Regions from separate parts of the Homo sapiens genome. Here region 1 is linked to region 2. The links come from fine-mapping of genetic effects on gene expression. Tissue or cell type: whole blood. Region 2 holds a variant in brackets; the other region holds the start of a gene. All regions are shown on one strand. Distances are from middle to middle.

What was found. PIP is the estimated chance that this variant, and not a neighbour inherited with it, causes the effect.
Region 1: it holds the start of LGR4, and the variant in region 2 is fine-mapped to the expression of LGR4 in whole blood (TOPMed, PIP above 0.99).

Annotation. Positions count from the first base shown.
Region 1 is chr11:27,468,817-27,476,941 of GRCh38, reverse strand. LGR4 (leucine rich repeat containing G protein-coupled receptor 4) reads left to right here and starts at 4,152. Exons shown (of 18, transcript NM_018490.5): 1 at 4,152-4,824. The coding sequence starts at 4,640. It overlaps LGR4-AS1 (LGR4 antisense RNA 1), which reads right to left and starts at 5,211. Exons shown (of 4, transcript NR_131170.1): 1 at 5,110-5,211; 2 at 3,985-4,164; 3 at 3,746-3,774. RefSeq lists silencers at 4,379-4,428, 4,559-4,728, 4,979-5,038.
Region 2 is chr11:27,430,555-27,438,554 of GRCh38, reverse strand. The region is part of intron 1 of LGR4 (leucine rich repeat containing G protein-coupled receptor 4); the gene reads left to right. Among named protein-coding and RNA genes, the nearest start is that of LGR4-AS1, 37 kb to the left of the region's middle. The variant A/G (reference allele first, on the strand shown) is at 4,526.

The DNA of each region.
Region 1 (8,125 bases), 38 kb before region 2:
GGATCACTTGAGGTCAGGAGTTCAAGACCAGCCTGGCCAACACAGTGAAACCCCTTGTCTACTAAAAATACAAAAATTAGCTGGGTGTGGTGGTGCATGCCTGTAGTCCCAGCTACTTGAGAGGCTGAGGCAGGAGAATCGCTTGAACCCAGGAGGTGGAGGCTGCAGTGAGCTGAGATCACACCACTACACTCCATCCTGGGCCGCAGAGAGAGACTCCATCTCAAAAACAAAACAAAACAAAACACCATTTAAAAAAACAAACAAACAAAAAACGGTGGAAGAGTGAAAAGATAAATTTGCTTTCTGCTTGAGCTGGGACATCTGTCTTCTCTTCCCCTCAGACTTCACTGCTCCTGGTTCTCAGGCCTTCAGACTTCGACCAAAACATCATTGACTCCCCTGGGTCTCAGGCCTTCAAGTTTGGACTAAAACAAATCCACTAGCTTTCCTGGGCCTTCAGCATGTAGATGGAAGATTGTCACTTAGTCTCCATAATTGTATAAGTCAGTGCCTCACAATAAATCTCTTTCTGTATTTCTATATATATCCTATTGGTTCTGTTCTCTGGAGAACCCTAACACACTGGGCATTTCATTAAGTGGAATATTATATAGTAATAAAAATGAAGTTACAAGCCTCATAGTTCGTGAATGTCGATTACACTCACAGGTTGAGTGAAAAAGCAGGTTGCAGAACAGTACGCAATGATGTTGATTTATATATGAAAAACAATGCTGTTTATTGTTTAGGGATACATGCATACGAAAAGCATGAAAATATGCATGGGAATTAACTACAAAGTTTAGGAAACTGCTTACTTCTCAGGGAGAGGAAGAAAAGGAATATGATTGGGGAGTGGTACAAAGGGAGCTTCAACTACATTCGTAATATTTCTTAAGCTGATTGCTGTTAACTCTTTTTCTAAGTCGAAATAGTTCATAAAAAGTGAAATTCTACATGTTTGAGGACTTTTATCCAGTCAATCATTACAGCACTCAGAGCCCCCACTGTATCTGAGCTGTTGTTGTAACAGGGCACCTTGAACCGTTCACCCAACAGGTAGGGCCTCTGCATATACTTGTTCAGGTTCTATGTTTACAAGAGTTCTTGGGTAAAGGGGTGGTAGAACCGAAGTCCAGCTTATCCATCAGTCAACAAGTCCTGTGTGCTCTGCACAAAGACACCAAGGCAAGTATCACTACGATAGGGTACTTTCTTCATGGCCCATAAGCTCCATGCCACATATGCAGAGGGGTTGCAGCCCAGTTCTATTTTTTATCTAGCCTGTGGATGCCGCAAATTTACTTACACACAACCAATGAAAACTTTAAGAGGAACCGATCTGTAGACAGAGACCCTATTATTTTTTGCTTGCCGTCAATTTTTATTTGGTTTATCTCAGTATCTTTCCAGTCCTTATGATTTATTTAAGAGCTGATCATTTTTCTCTAGTTATCTGAGATATTACCTTAATCACTGGTTTTTTGTTTTTTGTCTTTATACTTTCTTGGGACATCTTATCCAAGAGATGGAGACTAATTGACCAATGTATCTCTAATGCAAAGCATACAAAATGTACCAAATAAGAAATACAAACACTTCAATATATCTTATCTTTTCTGTTCCCTACCCAAGTCTTTTGTTCCTGATCTTTTATCTTCTTGGCTAAGCTGCAAATTTGAATCTTCCTTTCTTACATTTGTCATCTAATAGACAATAGGAATTTATTTTTTAGTAAAATCTGCATCTCCCCTTTTTTCAAAATATAAATCTCTCCTTTCACCTAAGTTTTCAGCCATAAGATTTTATTATTTGAAGACAAAGAATAAAGTTCTCCAAGTGTGGTTCATGAATCACCTGTGTCACTTTCACTTGCTGTGCAACAAAATGCTGGTTTCTGGGCCCCACTTAGGCCTACTAAATCATTCTGCATTTTTAATCAAGATTTGCATATAAGCCGGACTCCGTGGCTCATGACTGTAATCCCAGCACTTTGGGAGGCCAAGGCAGGTGGATCACTTGAGGTGAGGAGTTTGAGGCCAGCCTGGCCAACATGAGAAACCCCATCTCTACTAAAAAAAAAAAAAAAAAAAAAAAAAAAAAAGTAGCTAAACATGGTGGTGGGCACCTGTAATACCAGCTACTGGGGAGGCTGAGGCAGGAGAATCACTTGAACCCGGGAGGTGGAGGTTGCAGTGAGCCAAGATCACGCCACTGGACACAGTGAGTGAGAGTCCGTTTCAAAAAAAAAAAAAAAAAAGAAGAGATCTTAAAGAAACGATTACAGAAACTAACTTTACAATTTCTTCCTTATTTGTTCATGACAGTTGCTAGAAAATAATGGAAATGATTTAGACGATGAAAGCCTATTTAGGGAAGGCTCTAAGAGTACCAGATTAGGAGCCAGGAGCCCAGGAGCTGTTCCGTGATGATGTTGGGCAGAACACACTCTCTCTCGAGCCTCAGATTTCTTATCTATAAAACCAGAGTTTTCTGGGGGTCTTTAAGTTGTCTTTCAGCCCTGCAGTGAGAGGAGATATGTCATTCCTAAAACTTGAAATGAAGGCATATGTTTATTTATTAACTCTCTAGCTTCTAGACAGATTTACTGTATGTGACTTATGTGCCCAACCTGACATTATCTTTTAGATAAACTCCCAAATACAAAGATGATAAAATTTTTTCATTTTAAACTTATAGGTCTGCATCAACCTGTTTCCATTGTCCTAAGTTTTATTTACATACGATGGCTAGTCAACTTTATATGATAATTATCTTTAAATCCTGCTTTTTTTTTTTTTTTTTTTTTTTTTTTTTGAGACAGAGTTTTGCTCTTGTTGCCCAGGCTGGAATGCAATGGCGCGATCTCCAGCTCACCGCAACCTCCGCCTCCCGGGCTCAAGCAATTCGCCTGCCTCAGCCTCCCGAGTAGCTGGGATTACAGGCATCTGCCACCACACCCGGCTAATTTTGTATTTTTAGTAGAGACGGGGTTTCTTCATGTTGGTCAGGGTGGTCTAGAACTCCCAACCTCAGGTGATCCGCCCGCCGCAGCCTCCCAAAGTGTTGGGATTACAGGCGTGAGCCACCGCGCCCGGCCGAATCCTGCTTGTTTTAATGTATTCATTAAAAATGTCTCCATTATAGAGTAAAACGACTCAACGCCATGGCAGAGAGCAAGAAACGAAGTACCCTTAAAGCCGTAGTTGGTACAGGTAATGATTCCGTGGGGTCTATTAGGCCACAGGGACTCAAAATCCAGAAGAGGAGGGAATGCTGATAATTACCTAACACCAACGTTGCTGCTGGCTTCTCAGCCGTAGTCACCTCCCACTCAGATGTTTTGGAAATTGTCCAGTGTTCAGAAACATCACTTTCTCTGACCTTTTACAAAATTCCTGTGTTTCAGGATTTTAAAGTGCGTGAGAAAGGAGTCTAATTTGCAGTCACCAAAAACACCAAATACAGAGAGAGGACTGGGGAGAATGAATTGCTAAGACTTAGCTACCAAATGTGTATCAAGATAGGTGTAAAGATCCCAGGTGAAGTGAGGCACTGGAGAGGGTACACTTTTAACTTAGTGTATAGCTAAAACCCAAAGATGTGTGTCAGATCGAGGGAAACTTTTTTCCTCCTCTTCAAAATCTTTTTTCCGTTTGCAGAGCTCCAGACGTCCTCGCCCTTTGGAACAGCGGAGAGTCATTTAAAACTTAACTGAACGCTGGAGGGAAGTTCTACTTACCAGGTCATCCAATTTAGGAGATCCAATTTCTGCGGAGGGAACAAAAAGACGGGTGGGGGAGGGAAAAACTAGACCCCTTGTCCTACTATCCTTCTACCTTCAATCCACAACCTGCCAGACAAATCCAGCCAAGTCAAGATTTTGCCTTGAACCACCACCACCACCACCACCACCACCGCCGCCACCACCACCACCACCACCGCCGCCACCACCACAACCACCACCACCTTGTCACTCACGCCCGAGAAACACGCCCCTCTGGTCCTCCTCTTGGCCAATGGCGGCTCTCCTCTCTGCATAGTAATGAGCTCGAGACCTCCCCGGGCCAATGGCGCTCCGGGAGAAGGGATACTTTTGCATGTACCTAAGTGATTTGCATAAGCCAGCGGCCGGGGGTTTGGGAACCAGAGCGTGCAACCCTAGAAGGGAAAAGGACGGGAAGAGATTGAGCCGCGGCTGGGAGACAGCGAGCCAGAGTCTGGGTGTTTGTGCGAGAGCCACGGCGGGGGCTGGGGCGAGTGGCCGGCATGGCTGAAGGCTGCGCTCTGCAACCTTGAAGAGCCGCTGCATTGAGAGGCCAGGGACAGGGAGACCGGTGCGATGGCAGAGCGCGGCCCCCGCCGCTGCGCCGGGCCGGCCCGGCTGGCGTGAGCCGCCGGAGGAGCGGGGCTGCCTCTGCGCGTCCATGGAGCAGCGGGAAGGGCGAAACTCCGGAGCGCCGCGTCCCTGCGCCGCTGCGGCGGACTGCTGAAGGGGCCGAGCCCGCGCGGACCGCCGAGGAAGAGACCCCCGCTCCAGCCCGCAGGCCGGCTGCCCGGGGGCGGCGGGGGACATCGGAGGGCAGCGGAGCGAGCAGCGCCGCGGGAGAGGCCGGCGCGGGAGGCGGCCGCAGCAATGCCGGGCCCGCTAGGGCTGCTCTGCTTCCTCGCCCTGGGGCTGCTCGGCTCGGCCGGGCCCAGCGGCGCGGCGCCGCCTCTCTGCGCGGCGCCCTGCAGCTGCGACGGCGACCGTCGGGTGGACTGCTCCGGGAAGGGGCTGACGGCCGTGCCCGAGGGGCTCAGCGCCTTCACCCAAGCGCTGTGAGTGCGGGCGGCGGGGACGCGAGGGGGGGGGAGGAAACGGGGCCCAGCGGGGGGCGCCGCGGGGCGGAGCCAGGGGTCAGTCCCACCCCACCCCGCCCCGCCGCCGCCCGGGCCTGGGGAGGGGGTCCGCCGGTCACCTGCGTGCGGGCTGCCTGGCACCCACTCCTGTGCCACGGGCTTTCCGCACTTTGCTAGTCCGGGTTCGAGCCAGCAGTAGCTTTCGTTCCCAGACTTTTTGGGCACAAGCACCCTCCCACCCCACCGCGCACACCCCCAACTCACAAGTGCATCTGGGGCCAAGAAGGAGGAAGTAATCTAAAAACGCTTGCCCCTGGCAGCCTGTCCACGCGACCTTCCCTTCTCATGAGGGCCCTCGCTCAGCGGGCAGGAGTTCCGCTACTGGCGGGGCTGAGGGCGCCGAGAACTTGGCCTCAGTCTGCATACCGAGGCATGTCTCGTGGGGAAGCACCTGGAGCCTCCTGGGTTCCAGCATGTGGGGAGAAGAAACACCTGTACCTCAGTCAGGGCGAATCTCCTTCCAATTTGGCCCCATCCAGGTAGTGCGTCCCGGCACCTACCTCGGCCCAGTTCCACTCGGGACTACCCCACTAACGCCCAGGCTTCTGCAGCACGCAGGGGAGTCCGAGAAAACAAGGGAGAATTACAGGGTTCTGTTGGTGGACATGCTCTTACCCAACAAGGCCTTTTAAAGAAGGAATGCTGACCTGAGGTGCAGGATGTTGGAAGAGAAGCAAGTTCCGGAGCATATGCTCAGCCCAGGCTGCAAGGTAGCAGCAGGTTTCTAATGCACCTTCACGCAGCCAGCAGATCTTTTCTTTTGAGCTGCCTGAGATCGAGAGACACACTGAAATGTTTCAGACTTACAAAATCGCCCTGCCAAAACGGACTTGAGAGCTTTAGACGTTCCCTTGAGAAAAGAAGAGGAATCTGAACTAGGTTGTGGAGGTGGTGGCAAAGGCCACGGATAGAGGAGGAACAGGGTAGGGTTTTTGTGTTCTTATTGCTTCTTGCGTTGCGTGGCCAGCTGAATGCTTAAATCAGGAGCAGTCGAAGAAACGTGTGAGAGAGGAAGGGATCCTGAGGGGCCCTAGGGTAGAGGGAATTTCCTTTTACCTGTAGTGGAAGGGACCTCTTAGAAATAGACAGTTTTAAAGGACCCTGTGAAGAAATCTTTATGCAGGCAGGAGCATTGCTGTATTTCCAGGTGGGTGGTGGCAAAGGTGTTCCGCTTGCCCTCTCAGGATGGACTTTTAGTGAGCATCGAGGCCTGTTGTCTTGGAACCTGTTTCATTCTTCTACCTTCAGCCTTCCCCTCCCCATTTGTTATTTTTCCTGTCTCAGGTTAGTTTTAGTTATGTATTTGAGGTTTTTTTTTTTTTTCAGTATAGTGAAGTTTAACTTGTCATTAAAAAAAAAAGTTAACTTTGCAGTGAAGAGCATTTTGTTCATAAAGTTACATTAAGTGGGAAAGTTTGAGCAGGAATTGATTGAATCAAGAGAAAGAAGACCTGTGGAGAGGAAATGGGACTAATTTTTCCCCAAGTTCTCTAGAAACGTTTAGGGAATTCGTGCAGAAAGAAATGCAGAAAGAAAGGTCCCTTTACCTGAACCTCTTGCAAGGCTCTGCATAGAATAGAAAAGCACAATTTTACTATTTTGACCAGTAGTAAAGACCTTGTTTAGCAGATTCCTCACATTTTAGTGAGTAGACTTGTCCTATAAGGAAACGGGCTGTTTTACATTAGTATCTAAAACCACAGAGAAATAATCACACTTTTATGAGAGCATACTCCTCTCTCCAAAGCATCTTCTGGTAGAACTCACTGAAGGTGGTGAAATGCTGTATCTTCAACTTTGGGCCTTAGAATAAGTTAGTGTTCATGGCTTAGGAAACAGAAAAATAATTGGTACCAGTCTCAATTAGAGTGCCTAAACTAGCATTATCTTAGCACTTTCTGAGCTTTGGTGGTGTGCAAATGTGTTTTATTTTCTTAGATTTGTGACCTGTAGGTAGAGTGATCGTACATTCTGGTGACTCCTTATTTCTCCTTAGTACTCATTTCACCCTCAAAAATATATATAACCACCCTCTCTAAAAGGGTTTTCAAGGACAGCATATTTGCATTTTACTCATGGGGAAACTAGCTCATTCAGTGATTCTCAAAAGCAATGTATGAAGCAAGGCCAGTGCTGCAGGTTTGCACACTCCAGTCGATCATATATGGGACATGTTGCGATCACCTAGGGTCTTTTTCCAAGTACTTCCAGTCTGCTCTCCCATCGCAGCTTTACTGAGATACAGTTACACATCAGGAGACTAGTTCCGTGGTCTCTAAGCGTTTGTTCACCTATTCTTAATTGCTGGAGCATGTGAACCAAAAACCTCTGTAGTTATACAGAAAATTACAATCATGAAAGTAGAAGTTAAAAAGATGAAACTATAATTACTAATCAGAGTTCTTCATTTTCTTCTCATTGCTCAATGGCTTGTCCTGGAGTAGTGCTTTCACCTTCCCTGGGGACAGGGGTGGGGGGTGCATTTCACTTTAAAGATCCTGGGACTGACAGGGCAGTGATTTTATTTTACTCAACTTGGGATCCCCAGAGCCCGGTACATAGGAGGCACTTAAAAATGCTGGAGTGAATAAATAAGGATGCAAGGCCACACCGAGGAGCAGAACCGTGGCATGGAATTCAGACACCATTCCCACAGGGGATTTTCAGATTCATTCTCAGCACTTAGCCTTTTGTCCAGATTTGAGAAGGTCCCAGAGAGAGAATACCTGCTTCTTCTCCTTGAGGCTGGTTGAAACTTGTTCAGTCTAACAGTGTCTATTTCCTGGTGAAAGCCGCTTTACCGGAGTCTGGGGACAGCGTCAGATGTGATCCTCAGTACTGTGAATGGGATTCCTGTATTCACACCATTTGCTGCACCTGTAGCAACTATTTATGTTTTTGAACAACAGTATTCAATCTTGTGTCACAATGCACTGGCCTGTCACAATTCACCCCGAGGAGTGTTCAAGGCAGTAATCTTACTAATATTAAAATTCCGAAGTTTAATCAGAAGGATTCAAGGTTATTACTGTATTTGTGCTAATAACTCAATCACCTACATTCCAAGATTGGGAGAAGAGATGAAGTCATGGGGAGGGGAATGTGTATGTGAGTCCTCTGGTTTGTGTGTTATTGCTACGGTGTTTGAGAAACGTAGACCTCGAGCACAAATTTGCATGTCCTAGGTTATGTTTGGCACATAGTTTTAAGATTAGCAAGG
Region 2 (8,000 bases):
AACCAAATATGTGGGAACTCCATGGCTTAGTAAGTTGACACATAAAATTAACCATCATAGGGTCTGTCTTAGGCATTGTAGGAGGCTTAACACCATCCCTGGCCCCTACTCACTAGATACCAGTAACCTCCCAGCTTCTGCCTGCCAAGTGGTGGCAACCAAAAATATCCTCAGACATTGCCAACTGTCTCCAATGCCAGATCACCCCTGGTTGAGAACTATTGCTATACATTTTTCAGAAGAGTATAAATGTCTTAGGTAAGGAAAATAGATGTTCATTCTAGACTTGCATTTGTTTTGCCATCTCTTGCAATTTTTAGATAATGATGTTTTTATGTAATACATACTAGTTATCAGTTTGTATTGGGAGAAATGTGGAAAATGCACAGACCAAGATTTGGGTCTTGATTCTGGTTGTGTGGCTTTGAATAAAGAAATGGCCTTTGATTTACTCATCAGTACAAGTTCCAAAGGTGGGGGTGAGAATGACTTGAACTAGGTCATCTCTATGGTTTCTATGTCTTTTTTTTCCTGGGGCGGGTGGAGAGTCTTGCTGTGTTGCTCAGGCTGGAGTGCACTGGAGCGATCATAGCTCACTGCAATCTTAACCTCGCAAGCTCAAGTTGTCCTTCCATCTCAGCCACCTCACCCCTGTCCTGAGTATCTGGGACTACAGGGCACGCCACCCCTCCTGGCTGTATTTTTTAATCTTTTTTGTAGAGACAGAATCTCACTATGTTACCCAGGCTGATCTCAGACTCCTGGGCTCAGGAGGTCCTCCTGCCTGTACCTCCCAAAGTGCTGGAATTATAAGCTTGAGCCATTGTGCCTAGCTTTATGATTTCTTTTAGCATAAACACACACACACACACACACACACACACACACACACACTAGTCCTTTAAAAGAGATTCAAGTAAAAATCCATAAAGACTTTAAAAATAGGACCACCTTCTTTTCATGCCTAGCATTACAAGGATTGGAAGGACGGATCTAGTCCCTGTTCTTGCAGGAAATACCTGACCAGGTGACATGCAATAAAAATAGTCACTCCTTCTCAATTTTAACTCACTATTTATTTATAAAGCATTTGATAAAAAATGCATTTTATGGAGGTACGTTGGTTTTAATGATTGCTTCTAGGTAGCACTTTGAAACTTTTCTCAACACTAGAAAATAGTAGCATGTCTTTGGTCTGTTCAATACACATGGATAATTATAATTTCTTTTCAAAACAGCAATTTATAAAAAAAAAAATTGGCCAAAACAGTAGGGTTCCTTGGCTATTTTTAGGGAAGAAATTACTAAGATGCAAAATAAGTTTTAAAATATAAACAAGTGTGTGTATATTTGGACTAACTTACATGTTTACATTGGTTGTCCTGAGTCAGCCACATAAGTGGCAGTTTGCATTCTGGGCCAAGCTTTTTAGCCTGCTGGCCCCCAAATTTAAGACCCATCCCAACTTTTTTGGCTCATGTTTCTATCTAAATATTGGGTGGAAACAGCAGAAGAACCAAAGTAAAATGGAAGGGGGGATTTTTTGAAATTAAAACTAGTTAGTAACCAAACAGACAGATATATGCCAGATTTTTTAGTGCCATTCCCACCCCCTCAAATCCCTCCATCTCCCTTCAACACCCCCTCCTATCCCCGCAATGCAGTGCAAAGACTGGTATAGCTAAGGGCCTATCTATCAAACAGATTCAAGATTTGCAAGCGTAAGACATGTAGGGTTAGAGTTACCTGCAGCTGTGTGATAGGTACGTAATAACATATGAACAAACGATATTAACACCTGTGGTGAGTGAGTGGTCCAATAGCTATTTTTATTGCCATGTTGTAAACTATAATGACAAAAATTGTAGGGCTTATAGAAAATATCTTTACTGCTATCATGATTTATTTTCCTGGGATTTTGTTCTTTTTCCTCTCCATATACATGATAAAAAAATATGGTGAAAACACTATTACATATATATTGTTAGTTATATAAGTGTTGTCTTCACTTTTCACCAAGCCAAGTGAAACATCCATCCTTATAATTTATCCATCCAGGATAAATTTCCTGGATAAATAAGTAGTTTTAGAATATTTCTTAAAATCATTCATTAGTGCCTGACAGTTTCTTTCCTTCCTTCCTCCCCTCCCCTCCCCTCCCCTCCCATCCTCTCTCTCTCTCTTTCTTTCTTTCTTTCTTTCTTTCTCTCTCTCTCTCTGTCTTTTATTTCTTTCTTTCTTTGCATTATGGTGTAGTGATTCGGGAGACAGGATTTTGAAGATTGTCTGGGTATTCAGATCCTGGCTTGACATCATTTCGAGGTGACTTTAAGAAGTTCCATTTGGCCAGGAGCAGTGGCTCACACCTGTAATCCCAGCACTTTGGGAGGCCAAGGTGGGTGGATCACGAGGTCAGGAGATCGAGACCATCCTGGCTAACACGGTGAAACCCCATCTCTACTAAAAATACAAAAAATTAGCCGGGCGTGGTAGTGGGCGCCTGTACTCCCAGCAACTCAGGAGGCTGAGGCAGGAGAATGGCAAAAACCCAGGAGGCGGAGCTTGCAGTGAGCCCCAGATCGCGCCACTGCACTCCAGCCTGGGTGACAGAGCGAGACTCCGTCTCAAAAAAAAAAAAAGAAGTTCCATTTCCAGTTCTGTAAAATGAGAATAGCGATAGAACCTACCTCTTAGGATTATTGTGAGGTTAAGATATGTGAACCATTTGCCTCCAGCCTGGCACTAGATGCATTCAAAGTAGTTGATGAGCTGGGCACAGTTGCTTATACCTGTAATCACAGCACTTTGGGAGGCTGAGGTGGGAGGATCACTTGAGGTCAGGAGTTCAAGACCAGCCTGGCTAACATGATGAAACCCCATCTCTACTAAAAATACAAAAATTAGCTGGGTGTGGTGGCAGGCATCTGTAATCCCAGCTACTTGGGAGGCTGAGGCAGGAGAATAGCTTGAACCCAGGAGGCGGAGGTTGCAGTGAACCGAGATTGCACCACTGCACTCCAGCCTGGGCAACAGAGTGAGACTTCATCTCAAAAAAAAAAAAAGTAGCTGATGAACAGAACAGAAGAGGCACTTGGTCAAATAAGTGTTATCTAGAAAGGATAATACCATCATTAGAATTTGATCATTTAAGAGACTCTGTCTAGTAGCATTGTTATCTCTGAGTTTTTGTTGTTGTTGTTGTTGTTTGTTTGTTTGTTTTTTGAGACAGAGTCTCACTCTGTTGCCCAGGCTGGAGTATAGTGGTGTAATCTCAGCTCACTGCAGCCTCTGCTTCCTGGGTTCAAGCTATTCTCCTTCCTCAGCCTCCCAAGCAACTGGGATTACAGGCGTGCGTCACCATGCCCAGCTAATTTGTATTTTTAGTAGACATGGGTTTTCACCATATTGGCCAGGCTGGTCTCGAACGCCTGATCTCAAGTGATCTCCCGACTTGGCCTCCCAAAGTGCTAGGATTACAGCCATGAGCCTCTGCACCTGGCCAAGTTTTATCTATAAGTAGCTCGTCAGGAAGGTCATCTGGTGTAGTGTTGTGGGTTTCCAGCTGCCTGTTTGACACGTTGCATGGTGAAATATGAAAACTAGGGGTATTGTCATGATTTTTAAGTGACTCTATTATTAGTCACTTTAAGGGGCCATCTTTTATTGTAAGATCATACCGTTTGGCTTTTGGGGGAGAATATTAAATTTAATGTTCCTCCCCTCTCCCCTCTTTAGATTGATGGAGTTGTTTTATAAATGTGCTTATAAGTCAAAATAAAAAAGTTGACAACCTTGAATTGGTCTCTCCAGTTGTGTGGTATTTCAGGGGCTATGAATAGGCATTGTATTGATTTAAGGTACCAGAATTCTAGGAGTCACATTCATGGTAGGAAGCTCTTCTCTAGTGTCCTTGACAGATTGTCTTTAGCCACTGCGTTTAGTATCTCTGGCAAGGCAGGGGCTTCTCTTACTGAACAGCTCAAGACATTAACAGTAATCTTTTTTGTTATTTTTTGTGATACAGTTAGCTTCCCAGTTCAGTGTAGTGGACAGACCACAGGCCTCTACTTCACCAAAAATTATTTTACTTTGGGTATGTAAGGCCAGAGTTGTGAATATTAAAAGGGGAAATGAGATGTAAACACTAAGCTATATTAAACATTTTGGAATTATTAGTTCCTTTCTTCCTTCCTTTCCCATTGAAAGCATCTATTGATTGTACTTAATTCATGCATCTAGAGCAATGGAGATATTCTTCTCTTATTTACATGAGAGCTCTTCAGGTTTCTTCCTCAATCTCATCTTCTCCAGAACAAATAGCCTCTCTTTTCAGTGGCTGCCTCGTCAGGTTCCAGATCCCTCACTGTCCTGGCCTTCAGTTTTGGAGGCTGAATATGTGAAGTTTCTATGTTTGGTTCATGAATTCTGCATGGGCACCTAGTATATGTAGGATAGTAATAAAAATGCCTTAAGTTCCCAGAAGGCTCTGTGGTTTTAATGGTGCTTTCCAATCTTCCCAGCCCTG[A/G]GGTAGGGGAGATATTTTCCCATTTGACTGTGAGGAACCTGAGAGCCTTTCTAAGAACAAACAGACATCATTTAATTTTAGAGTTGGGAAGGCTTTGCATGCCATGCCGACCTCACATCACAGAAGAGAAACTAGAAGCTCAGAAGAGTTAAGGGACTTGCTTCAGGTCACATGGCCAAAGTTTGGCTGTGGCCCATGGGAATTGGACTCCATTTTTAAGTCCCTTTTTAACCCAGAAGTTGAACCACCACACTGTGCTGCGTCTGTGTTGTGCAAAGGATGAGAGAAGCATAAAGCAAATAACGGGCTCCTTAGTGCAAAGAACTTGCACAGGAATAGAATGAATGATTTGTTTTGCCTTTCTGTTTAGTTCATTTAAAAAATTCCAGCCGCTTACATGATAATAGGGTATAAACTATAGGAGAAACATTCACAGGGAGGATAGTTTAGAGCACACTCTGAAGAACATTAGGTTGTGGGAGAAAAGAATAGAAGAGTGGGCCGGGCATGGTGGCTCACACCTGTAATCCCAGCACTTTGGGAGGCTGAGGTGGGCAGATTACAAGGTCAGGAGATGGAGACCATCCTGGCTAACACGGTGAAATCCCATCTCTACTAAAAAAAAAAAAAAAGAAATAAAAATAAATTAGCCGGGCGTGCATGGTGGCAGGCGCCTGTGGTCCCAACTACTGGGGAGTCTGAGGCAGGAGAATGGCGAGAACCCGGGAGGCGGAGCTTGTAGTGAGCCGAGATGGCGCCACTGCACTCCAGCCTGGATGACAGAGCGAGACTCCGTCTCAAAAAAATAAAAAAAGAAAGAATAGACGAGTGTTCCCTGTGACTGATCTAGGGTAGTGTTCCTTAACATTCCTTTTCTGATGTGTCAGTTTTTTGTTTTAGTTTTTAATTTCCAATCCAATATGGTTCGTGTTTTTATAAAATATAAACATTAATTTTCAGGAAAATAAAATGGAGCAAAGAAAGCCTACATAATACAAACCCAAAGTTCTTATTATTGATTCAAAATCATAAAATTTGTCATGTTGCCATGATGTGAACTTTCAGTAGCTCTGCTTGTCTCATTGTGGAATGTTAACAGTTTACAGACTACTCAGGTTTTGAGTAGCAATGGTGTAGTGGGAAAAAAAGTGGGAAGAAACCAGCTGTTGTGGTGGGGAGGATATACGGGTAAGGAGATCTAAGGGAAGAGGACCTAGCCAGAGCGGAAGAATATAGGTGAAGCATGCAAAGAAAAAGATTAAGGTAGTATAACTGATGGAGAATCTCAATTTCTTCCAGTGGGTGGAGAGGAGTTTAAATTTGCCTCCAGAAGCAATGGGGGGTCCTCTGTAAGATCTTAGGCTTGTCAGCGCTTTGCTTTAGACACTCTCGGATGTCCTAGTAATTCTAAAATATTTGCTGCTGTCTGTAAGTTCTAGGTATATCCAGAACTTCTTCGTTATATGTCAATTGTTCTTCCATGATTTCTTTTCTCTTTATTTTCCTCTGTTATTTGAAGGGCAGAAATAGGCTGCTTTTTTCCATGTCCACCTCTTTGAATTTTGCCATTGGGTCTTCTCTGGGACAAACACTTTATATGAAGTAGGTGAGCCAGTCTCCTGTACTCCTTATCCTGTGGCTTGACCACCTCTGGGCAATTTCATTCAATTGCAGACATCTTCCAGGAAATGTCTAATTTGTTAAACAAATACTTGTTTTATTTCTGAGCATTTTGAAAGCAAGGTCAAAGATGGTGGCTGGGGAGAGAAGGTGTTCAAGTGGAAAAGGCTGCTAGCGTACAGTAGGAAACTGTGGGAAGGAGGATTTAGGGAATTGTAAAGACTAGCCCATCTTAAGTAGGGTTAGTGCTCCTGGTATGTGGAATGCCTTTTTATTCCTTGCCTAGGAGTGAGTGGCAATGCTCTGCTATGTAGATCAGTATTTCAGTCCTGAACCACCAGGGCCAAGAATTTGCCATCCTGCTGGGGATAATAACCGGCAGGATGTGACATATTACAATCAATGTGCATAGAGTACCTTCCTTATGTCAGCATGATCCAAACACTTTACATGATGAATTACTTTATTCTCACAGCAACCTTGTGAGGTGGATGCCATGATTCATTATTTATAGATGAGGAAGCTAAACACAGAATTTAATCCATCTGTGGAAGATCACGCAGCTAATACATGGTAGAACTTGGATTTGAACTCAGGCAGCCTTGCTGAAAGTCATGTTCTACTGCCTGAGACTGAAATAATATTATATGGATGGAGTGCTCTTGAAGATTGGTCATCTTACACGGATTAGTAAGTTCTTTGGATGGACAATCCTTTTGTCCTGAGTGCCAAGAAATATGGAAGAAAAAGATAGTGACCCAAGAGTCATGGAAGAAGAAAAACAGAAGGAAGAGCAAACCCAGGCTAGGCAGTGTCTTTGGGGGACGATGAAAAACAGCAGACCATTTAAACGTCCATGGTGTTTACATAGCTTTAGTTTAGTAGCACAAATATTGGTTATGGAATAGGATATCTCCTCCCCGTGAATGTTTATAGTATGTTAGGTGTTGGGCTAGGGGTTAGAAAATTGATAGTGAACAAGGTAGACTAGCTCTTTGTCCTCATAAATGTTCTTTTCTAGTGGGGAAGACCATGAACGCATAAGGGGCCATTGTAATATACTGCAGTGGTTCTCACATGTGAATGTGCATCAAAATCACATGGAAAGTTTGTTAATACCCCTAGAGTGTTTGATTAGTTGGTCTGGAGTAGGGCACAAGAAAGTGCCTTTCTATCAAATTCTCATTCCCAGGTGACATTGGACCACTTTCTGAGAACCCCTCGCTCAGTGGTTAATGCTGAAGAAAGTTTGTTTTCTAATAAAGTAAAAGGAAAGAAGATAAATCCAATGATAACTAGACAGAGGAAATAAACTGGTTGGTAATATAGAGTTTACTGGGGGCCATTTTAGGGGGGCTAAGAAGAGACTGTCTGAAGGGGTGACATTTGAGAGAAAACCAGGAGGTAAGAAGGAGGTGCTATGGGAAGAGCTAGGGAAGAATAGACCAGGCAGAGAACAAGTGCAAAGGTGGAAGGAGGAGAGGTTTGCGTGCTTGTGGGGGTTGGGGGAGCTGGGAGTGGGGTGGGGATGATTTGAGATGATGTTGGAGAGGATGCAGGAGCAAGTTCAGGTAGGGCCTTGATATAGAACAAAGAGACTGCTAAGCACTGGATTGGCATGAATTGTCTTCTTGTTTTAAAAAGATTGCTTTGACTGCCATGTGTAGGTCAAATTCAGAGGGGCAAGCATGGAAAGAGGGAGACCAAACAGAAGGCTACTGTCGTGGTCCCGGGAGAGATGGTGATGGCTTGGATTGAGGCAAGGGGTCGAGGGGTGGAGAAACAAGATAGAAGTGAGCTGGAGGAATGCACTGTTTTTGTTTCTACTGGCTTATCACCGCCTGGGGATGCTCAT